Linked DNA regions of Homo sapiens. The protein of the gene in region 2 interacts with the protein of the main gene of each other region in a biochemical or structural test. Each region holds a gene or a part of one and is shown on either strand. Other genes may lie near its edges. The genes, in order: MARCHF1 and SLC25A17.

Region 1 (3,122 bases), on a different chromosome or scaffold from region 2:
CCATCAGCCTTTGCTTGACATTTCCCATTCGGGATTTTGGTACTTACCATTCCCTCTTCCTGCGTTGCCATTCCCCTGAGCTTTTGCAAGGCCAACAATAACTGATTGTTCTCTCTTCCTTTAGGTCTGAGCTTAAAAGTGTTCTCTCTATCTAAAGCATCTCTACCCCCACACCCTTGCTACTCTTGGTTAATCTCTATCACAGCACCCAGTTTAGGATCACTGGACACATAATGACAGTGATTAATGATCTAGGAATGTTTGCTATAATTTCTGGTGGTGAGGGAGGGTGTTAAGTTCAGATTTCCATTTTGGGCAGAGGAGTTGGCTCATATAATTAGCAGACTGGTAGAAAGCCCTGTAGGTCCTTAGAAGTTGGACATTTGGAAACAGCTTTGTTTTTTGCTATCACCAAACCTCTTAGATTCTAATATCTTGCTTTTAATGTTTATTATCCATGCAATTATCTGAATCCACTATTATCTCTGAACAGAAAAATGCTGTTATATGCTTATTTTTCTATATCCAAGACTTATTCTTGAGACAGTCCCGCTTTAGATTACATTGTGATTTCTCTTGAACTCTTTTTTTAAAGCAGGTTTGAAAGTCCACATAGTTTATTTTCATTGGTTTCCCTCTGTTTGTGTATTTATTTATTTGTACCATGTCATGAGTTAGTCAACGTAGGTTTGCTTTAAAATAATTATATGTTCAGACCCTTGTAAAATCTTAAAAAATGTATGTGTGTTTGGATGTTGCAAATACAAATATCAGTCTGTTAGGCAAAAATTGTGGAAACCACAACTAAGGTTTGCGTCACTTGTTTAATATACAAAGTCTTTCACAGATAATTATTTTCTTTTTCTTAATTTGCTTTAGTACACATGATTCACAAAACAGTAAATTGTTAATGCAAGAGAATTATGTAAAACCAAAATAGTACAAATGCCTAATTTCAAAAACTGCACACAGTTAAAATAATTTTTCCTTCTTTGTTTTAATGCAGTATCCAGTTTCAAAATGGGCTTTCTTTAGATGTGGAGGAAACACTGCAGCCCAAAATAACAGTACTTCCTTTCAACTGTGTTGATATGTAAAATAGCACCATTGGGCTGACTTAGGAAAGAAAAAAGGTTTTCATCTTTCTTAATTAAAGTATTATATAACAACTATAATAATAATGATACTAATAACTTTTAAGAGCTGTACTCTGTTCTATAATATTCATTTTCAAGGCAAGGAAGGGTAAACTATATGGGGCAGATAGAAAAATCTTCCCACCTCAGCCCCAGGACCCTTATAATGTCCCTTAATGGTGTCATTGTTCTAATGAGCTAATTTTCCTGCCAAAGAATAGATGTTTTAAAGAGTACCCAAGGACCTTTTGTAAAACAAGATAAAAAACCATGAGGTCGTCTGTCTGGGACTATAATCACGTGTAGAAGCAGCGCAGAGTGAGATTTAATGCTGGGGTGTTTTGAAAGACTCCTTCAGTCTACACCTATCTTCCTTCAGGTTACACATTGCTGTATCTCAGGTTGTTGGGCTCACTTTAGTTTAGATTTTGTTCATTTTTATTTTGTTTTTGTACTTAAGCTTAATTGCCTTTTGGGCTTTACTTTTTAAAAAATTGGAATTTCTTTCTTTTACAATTTAATCTTTACTCCTGTACGATAAGAGTGATAGTTCTTTAAAAAAATTAACAGCATCAATGTCTGGTTTAATACTGAAGATTCATGATTATAAAGAGCCAAGGTTTTTAACACAACTGTAATTTCATTCTTCAATTTTAGTCCTTTTTTTTTCAATTCCATTTTATTTCTTCCACGAGCAGGTAAACATGCCTCAAAATTTGCATTCCGTAGAGCAGTTTTTCTTTTTGAAGGGTATAGTCAGTCAGTCTACAAAAAAGCACTGCCACAAAGCTAAATCGTTTTATTGTTTGAAAGGGCAAATGTTCCATTGCCACACAGAATGTAAAAAGAAAATAATCAACATTAGATTTTAAATGCAGGTAGTTATTTCAGATGTTTGAACCATAAACAAACAACCATTGCTGAAAAGCTTCTTAAAAGCTTGAAATTCAGAACTTCAGGGTTTCAAAAAGTCAGAAGAATAGCAAAATCAAGTGTTGACTTTTAACCTGCCAGGAAGCTATATTATATTATTTTCTCATTTCAACAATGTCCAAGCCCATAAAAGTTAATTGCAAGAATTTAGGTATAGTTTTAAAATCCCATGTCCTCTTTTACTATTAATAGAATAATGCTTACCTTTGCTTTTTATTCTAGAAATGTTTTCTTAGTGTTAAAAGTGTAGCCCTTAATAAATGAGGCTTTATTTTAGCCGATCATCCTCCACTGTGAAATCAGCCCTGCAACGTATCTTGTTTAGGTTCGTACAGAATTTAAACAATATTTTCCATGTTAATTAAAGTAAATAATTATTTTACTTTCAGAGCAAACAAAAGAGAAATCAACATTTCTTTGTTTGCTGGTGTCTGGATGTTTTTCCCCGGGAATATCTGTAAGCAGCATGTTGCCATTACTAACCCACAGGGAAAATGGATTAGTAAAAAGCTTAGGACAATTAACAGGAAAATTGCATTAAGGTTAATCCCTTGGATATGGTGCCATGGTTAAATCACCCACAGATTTGTTATTCATAAATGTATTTATCTTAAATATTTAAAATGGGCATTTAAGAGGAATTTAATATACAGTTTGTTTAAGGTCCACATGTTTTTTAAAACGTTAATTACTTATATCCTTATTTATACAGAATTTTTGGTTCAGTTTAGTTACCTCAACTTTGCTTTCCCTGTGCTTATAACAAGTTTTAAGAAAGATGAGTTTTAAACCTTTTGTTTCCTGACTGAATACCTTAACATTTTCCCCGCATATATACATGACTACACACACGCCATACACACACACAAAATTGACATTGTTTACCTTTTGTTTATTTCTAGGAATCAAGACTATCTGGACTCAGTGTCAGCCACTACTAATATTTATACCATCTTTCTCCTCATTTAAAGGTTTGTTTTTTTTTTCCCTTTTTCCTATGATCTGTGAAGAACAAGCACACTGATAATTACAAAGTGCATCCATGTGATACCC
Region 2 (5,537 bases):
AAAAAGAGAAGCATCAAATACATTCTCACATCATAAATACCTAATACAGCTATATAATTCGAACTGGAAATTATCCTAACAGACCAACTCACAATATTCTGAGCTCAAAATTCAAGTTCCAAAGGGAACGGCATAATTAAAACAATAATGAAAATACACATGACACCTTTATGATCATTTTTCTCCTATACAGAAATCAAAATAATTTTGTACTTCCCACTCAAGGTCTGCCACAGGCACACAAAAACCTTAAAGTAAAATTAAAAAATAGAAAAAACAATTCTGTCTTCAATTCTCTGACTTAAATAGGGGATGAATGTTCAGTCTTCTTCCCAGATTATTAGCTCCTGCTAATTTTTGTTTGCTAGAACAATGCAATGATCTTTAACAATCATATACTTTGAAATTACCACAGGGACTAAAGAGAGGAAATAAGAGAAGGAAATTTCCACTCTCAAAATTGAACTAAATCCTTAATAATGAAGTATTTCATTATTACTCTCTCTGACTAAATCATGGACTTACAAATGAAAAACCCGCCATTTTGTCATAGGGACAAAAAGGAAGTCATAGAAATCCAAAGAACCGCTCTGCTAATGTCAAGTGAATTTGCTTCCTGAGTGGGTCGAGATATCTAAATCCACTCCTGGCCGCATAATAAAAGCCTTACCACCTTAACAACGTGCTGTGAGGTGAAAGCAAAAGATGACATACGACTCCTAGATTTTTCAGAGGTTGTTTTAATACATTAATCTCTTTCCTTTGAGAAAAATCTTTATCTTGATGTCTATAATCGAAACCAATCACTTCTTCTCATGGGTCAGGGGTCCTATGGTCTCCTGAACTTTAATGTGGCTGTGAATCACCTGGGAATGTTAAAATACGGAACAGGATTCAGAAACTCTGGGTTGCGTGCCCAGCAAGCTCTCAGCTTGTGGCAGTACTACCGTCTGATGGACCACACTGAGCAACAGGACTCTAAGGAAGGTTTCCAAATGAAATAACCTCAACCAGATGTTTATTTTCAAAATATACGGCCTACACCAAGTTTATAAAGGGAGATAATATCCAGACCTCAACAAGATATCTGCTCCCCTTCTCATTTTTGTGATTTTTCCCATCTGGTTGCAAACTCAACGTAATACCTTAATAAAGAGCAATTTTCAAGAATATCTTTTTTGTGCTGACCATTTATTGGGACTTGACTGACCAGGGCTTGTAAGAATGGACACAAAACTTCAAGTCTTTCGTAATGAAAGGATTGATTCAAAATAAATATTCTAAAAATTATGTCAAACACTAATGAATAAGTGACATTTACAAATAGTTTATAAGAGAATCATTTGGGTGAACAATTTTCATTTCACAAAATAAATAGCTCATATCCAAAAAAGACACCTCTCCTTAAGCAGGGAAAAAAAAGCCCAACAAAAATAAAGTCATGCCCGTGGCACAGCCCTAATGTTAGTTTTAGGGAGGAAAACACCAACACTGAGACATACAAAAGTATTTGAGGAGAATTACATGTTATTAAATTTGTCCTAGAACCTGGGGGAGAGTTCAGGGAAAGAGAACAGCTGGTATATTTAAGAAAGATTTAAATAGAAAACATTACACATGAGAGCAAAATAGTCCATTTCTCTTAAGAAAACCAATAAACACTCACAAACTTTCATTTTTAGGTTTTCAGCAATGTTTTTTTCACATTAGTCCAACTGCCACCCCAAAATCCAACCAGCCAGCATGACAATTAAGGTGACAACAGGTCCAGTTGGCCATACTCCCTGTGCACCCTTGGATGCTTTTCAAGCCAATGAGGGTAACATTTGTGGTGGCAGGAGCCAGAGTCAAGGGAGAATCACTTCTCTTCACTCAGGAGGAAACCTCCCTCTTGAGCATCTTCGGAATTTTTCATGGGAAGGCGTCTCAGTGTTGGTGTGCACGCTTCAGCCCCATAACTGTGAAGGTGGCAGCTGTCAGTTTCTCATAAACAAGGAACATGAGAGCAGCAGTGAGGACTGTCTGCAGCAGTTTGGCTTCAAGGCCTTTGTAGAGTCCCATTATTCCAAAACGTCTAAAGGGAAAGAGGTTTGAAAAAACAGAAGTCAGCTCCTGCATCAGAGAACATGCTACCTAGATAGCTACTTTGATAAGAACAAGCAATAGAGGTTTTAGATTTCAACACAGACTTCTGTTGTCAAAGTACTTTCCTTTTTTTGAGACGGAGTCTCGCTCTGTCGCCCAGGCTGGAGTGCAGTGGCGCGATCTCGGCTCACTGCAAGCTCCGCCTCCCGAGTTCATGCCATTCTCCTGCCTCAGCCTCCCTAGCAGCTGGGACTAGAGGCACCCGCCACGACACCAGGCTAATTTTTTTTTGTATTTTTAGTGGAGATGGGGTTTCACCATGTTAGCCAGGATGGTCTCGATCCCCTGACCTCGTGATCTGCCCGCCTCAGCCTCCCAAAGTGCTGGGATTACAGGTGTGAGCCACCGTGCCAGGCCCTAGTTTTTGGTTCTTACAAATAATGTCTTAAATTTGGAAGCAAGCTACATGTCCATCAACAGATAAATGGATAAAGAAAATGTGGTACTTATACAAAATGCAGTACTATTCAGCCATCAAAAAGAATGAGAGTTTGTTGTTTGTAACAACATGGATGGAACTGGAGGTCATTCTGCTAAGTGAAACAAACCAGGCACAGAAAGACAAATATCGCATGTTCTCACTTATTTGAGGGACCTAAAAATCAAAACAATTGAACTCATGGAGATAAAGGTAGAAGGATGGTTACCAGAGACTACTGGGAAGAGTAGTGGCGGGGGGAAGGTGGGGATGGTTAATAGGTACAAAAATAGATAGTTTGAATAAGACCTAGTATTTGCTAGCACAACAGGTGACTATAGTCAATAATAATTTAATTGTACATTTAAAAATAACTAAAAGAGTATAATAGGACTGTTTGTAACAAAAAGAATAAATGTTTGAGAGGATAGATACCCCATTTTCCATGATGTGATTATTATGCTTTGCATGCCTGTATCAAAACATCTCACATACCTCAAAAATATATACCTACTATGTACCCACAAAAATCAAAAATTAAAAAATTAAAAAAAAAAAAACAAAGCCATTATTAACATTTGTATACAAGCTTTTGTGTAGACATATGCCTTCATTTCTCTTGGGTAAATACCCTGAAGTGGATGGCTGGGTCCTATAATAGGTGTGGTATATAAAAATTTTTAAAGAAAATGCCAAATTGCCTTCCAAAGCAGCTGTACCATTCTATATTCCCACCAGCAGCATAAGAAAGTAAGTTCTGGTTGCTCCAACATCCCTCCCAATACTTGATATAGTGAGTATTTATTTTTTACTTTATACATATTCTTTGTCTTTTATTTTATTTTATTTTTTGATAGAAGGTCTCACTCTGTTGCTCAGGCTAGAGTGCAGTGGCACAATCACAGCTCACTGCAGCCTCGACCTCCTGGGTTCAAGCAATCCTTCCACCTCAGCCTCCTGGGTAGCTGGGACTACAGGCAGGCACCAGGATGCCTAGCTAATTTTTTATTTGTGTAGAGACGGGGTCTCACTATGTTGCCCAGGCCAGTATCAAACTCCTGAGCTAAAGCGATCTGCCTGCCTTGGCCTCCTAAAGTGCTGGGATTATAGGTGTGAGCCACCACGCCCAGCCTAATTTTGTCTTTTAGTCCCTTGAATGTTCTTTTTTTTTTTTTATTTTTTTTATACAAGGTCTTGCCTCTTTAGCCCAGGCTGGAGTACAGTGGTGCCATCATAGCTCAGTACAGCCTCAATCTGCCGGGCTCAAGTGAATCTCCTGCTTCAGCCTCGTGTGTAGCTGTGATTACAGGTTTGTGCCACATGCTTGGCTAATTTTGTAAATATTTTTTGTAGAGACAGGGTCTCACTACTTTGCCCAGGCTGGTCTTGAACTCCTGGCCTCAAGCTATCCTCCTGTCTCAGCCTTCCAAAGTGTTGGGATTACAGGCATGAGCCACTTTGCCTGGCTGCATATTTTATTTTAATAATAAATTTATTTTCAAAGTATCTTGTATCTAGGAACAGTAATAAAGTTATAAGAGCTTTTGCTTCAAAGGAGGTCCCTGACTTATCTGACTTCACTAAGTGTCAGTTTCTTTAAATGAAACAGGAAATGACAATAGTTCTTAACTCACAGAGCTACTGTTAGGATTGACAAGGCTGGGCGCGGTGGCTCACACCTGTAATCCCAGCACTTTGGGAGGCTGAGAAGGGCAGATCACGAGGTCAGGAGATCAAGACCATCCTGGCAAACACAGTGAAACCCCATCTCTACTAAAAAATACAAAAAATGAGCCAGGCGTGGTGGCAGGCGCCTGTAGTCCCAGCTACTTGGGAGGCTGAGGCAGGAGAATGGTGTGAACCCAGGAGGCGGAGCTTGCCGTGAGCGGAGATAGCGCCACTGCACTCCAGCCCGGGCAACAGAGCGAGACTCTGTCTCCAAAAAAAAAAAAAAAAAAAAAAAGGATTGAGATTACCTATGTGTAGCCTCTAGGTCAGTGTCTGCCACATGGCAAACCACTGAAAATGTTAGCTACTCTTACCAACACCACCATCATCATTATCATCATCATCATCACTATTATCACTTTTTCCACTGCCCCCTCCCTTCTCCAGTACTCCTATTCTATAGGCAGATGTTATATTGCTAAGAGGCATCATAGGATATGCCACTGATGAAAGCACACTCAGGGTGACTGAAGTATAGAAGGGTTCTCTTTCTGAAGGAGTTCTGAATATTTGTAACTAACAAAGAATAAGAACCTGAACTTTTCCATAATTTCCCAAAATGCTGTCATACTGTACTAGGCTCCTAAAATGGGAAATGTCTAAGCACAGCAAGCAAGGGAAAGGTTTTGGAGGTTGCCACCACCAAGGCAGTAGTGTGAGAGAGGGAAATGCAACCCCTCCCTGGCAGAGATGGCTGCTGAAGGAGAGCACGGAATGTGAGGCATCTACAAAGCTCACCTTACTCGTTGGTGAAGAAGATAGAGAATATTCCGAAGACTTCCCAATGTTCTGTTTTCTGGGTTTAGTCTATGACGCCCAAACTGAGGAAAGAGGGAAAAAAAACAAAAGTACTGTTGCTGTTTTTTAAAATCTTCATTTTTACCTGGGGAGGATATTATGTTGGAGTAGTATCTTATAGCATACATTAATAAATTTATCCAATTAGTACCATAGATTTCATTAATCCTGTATTTTTCAACTGAGTGAAATATTTCAATCAAATAAGTGAAAATAAGAAAAATTTTTCCTTTTTTTTTTTTTTTGAGACATCTTCTCACTCTGTCACCCAGGCTGGAGTGCAATGGCACAATTTTGGCTCACTGCAACCTCCACCTCCCAGGTTCAAGTGATTCTCCTGCCTCAGCCTCCCGAGTAGTTGGGATTATAGACATGTACCACCACGCCCGGCTAATTTTTGTATTTTTAGCAGAGATGTGGTTTCACCATGTTGGCCAGGCTGGTCTCG

The links.
Region 1: the proteins of SLC25A17 (region 2) and MARCHF1 form a complex in vitro, tested with the Homo sapiens proteins (one study listed by BioGRID).

The regions. Positions count from the first base shown.
Region 1 is NC_000004.12:163,523,913-163,527,034, forward strand, and holds the end of MARCHF1 (E3 ubiquitin-protein ligase MARCHF1), read right to left. Parts: 3' UTR 806-3,122; downstream 1-805. UniProt on the Homo sapiens protein: E3 ubiquitin-protein ligase that mediates ubiquitination of TFRC, CD86, FAS and MHC class II proteins, such as HLA-DR alpha and beta, and promotes their subsequent endocytosis and sorting to lysosomes via multivesicular bodies.
Region 2 is NC_000022.11:40,768,908-40,774,444, forward strand, and holds the end of SLC25A17 (peroxisomal membrane protein PMP34), read right to left. Parts: intron 5,113-5,537; coding exon 5,030-5,112; intron 2,075-5,029; coding exon 1,927-2,074; 3' UTR 723-1,926; downstream 1-722.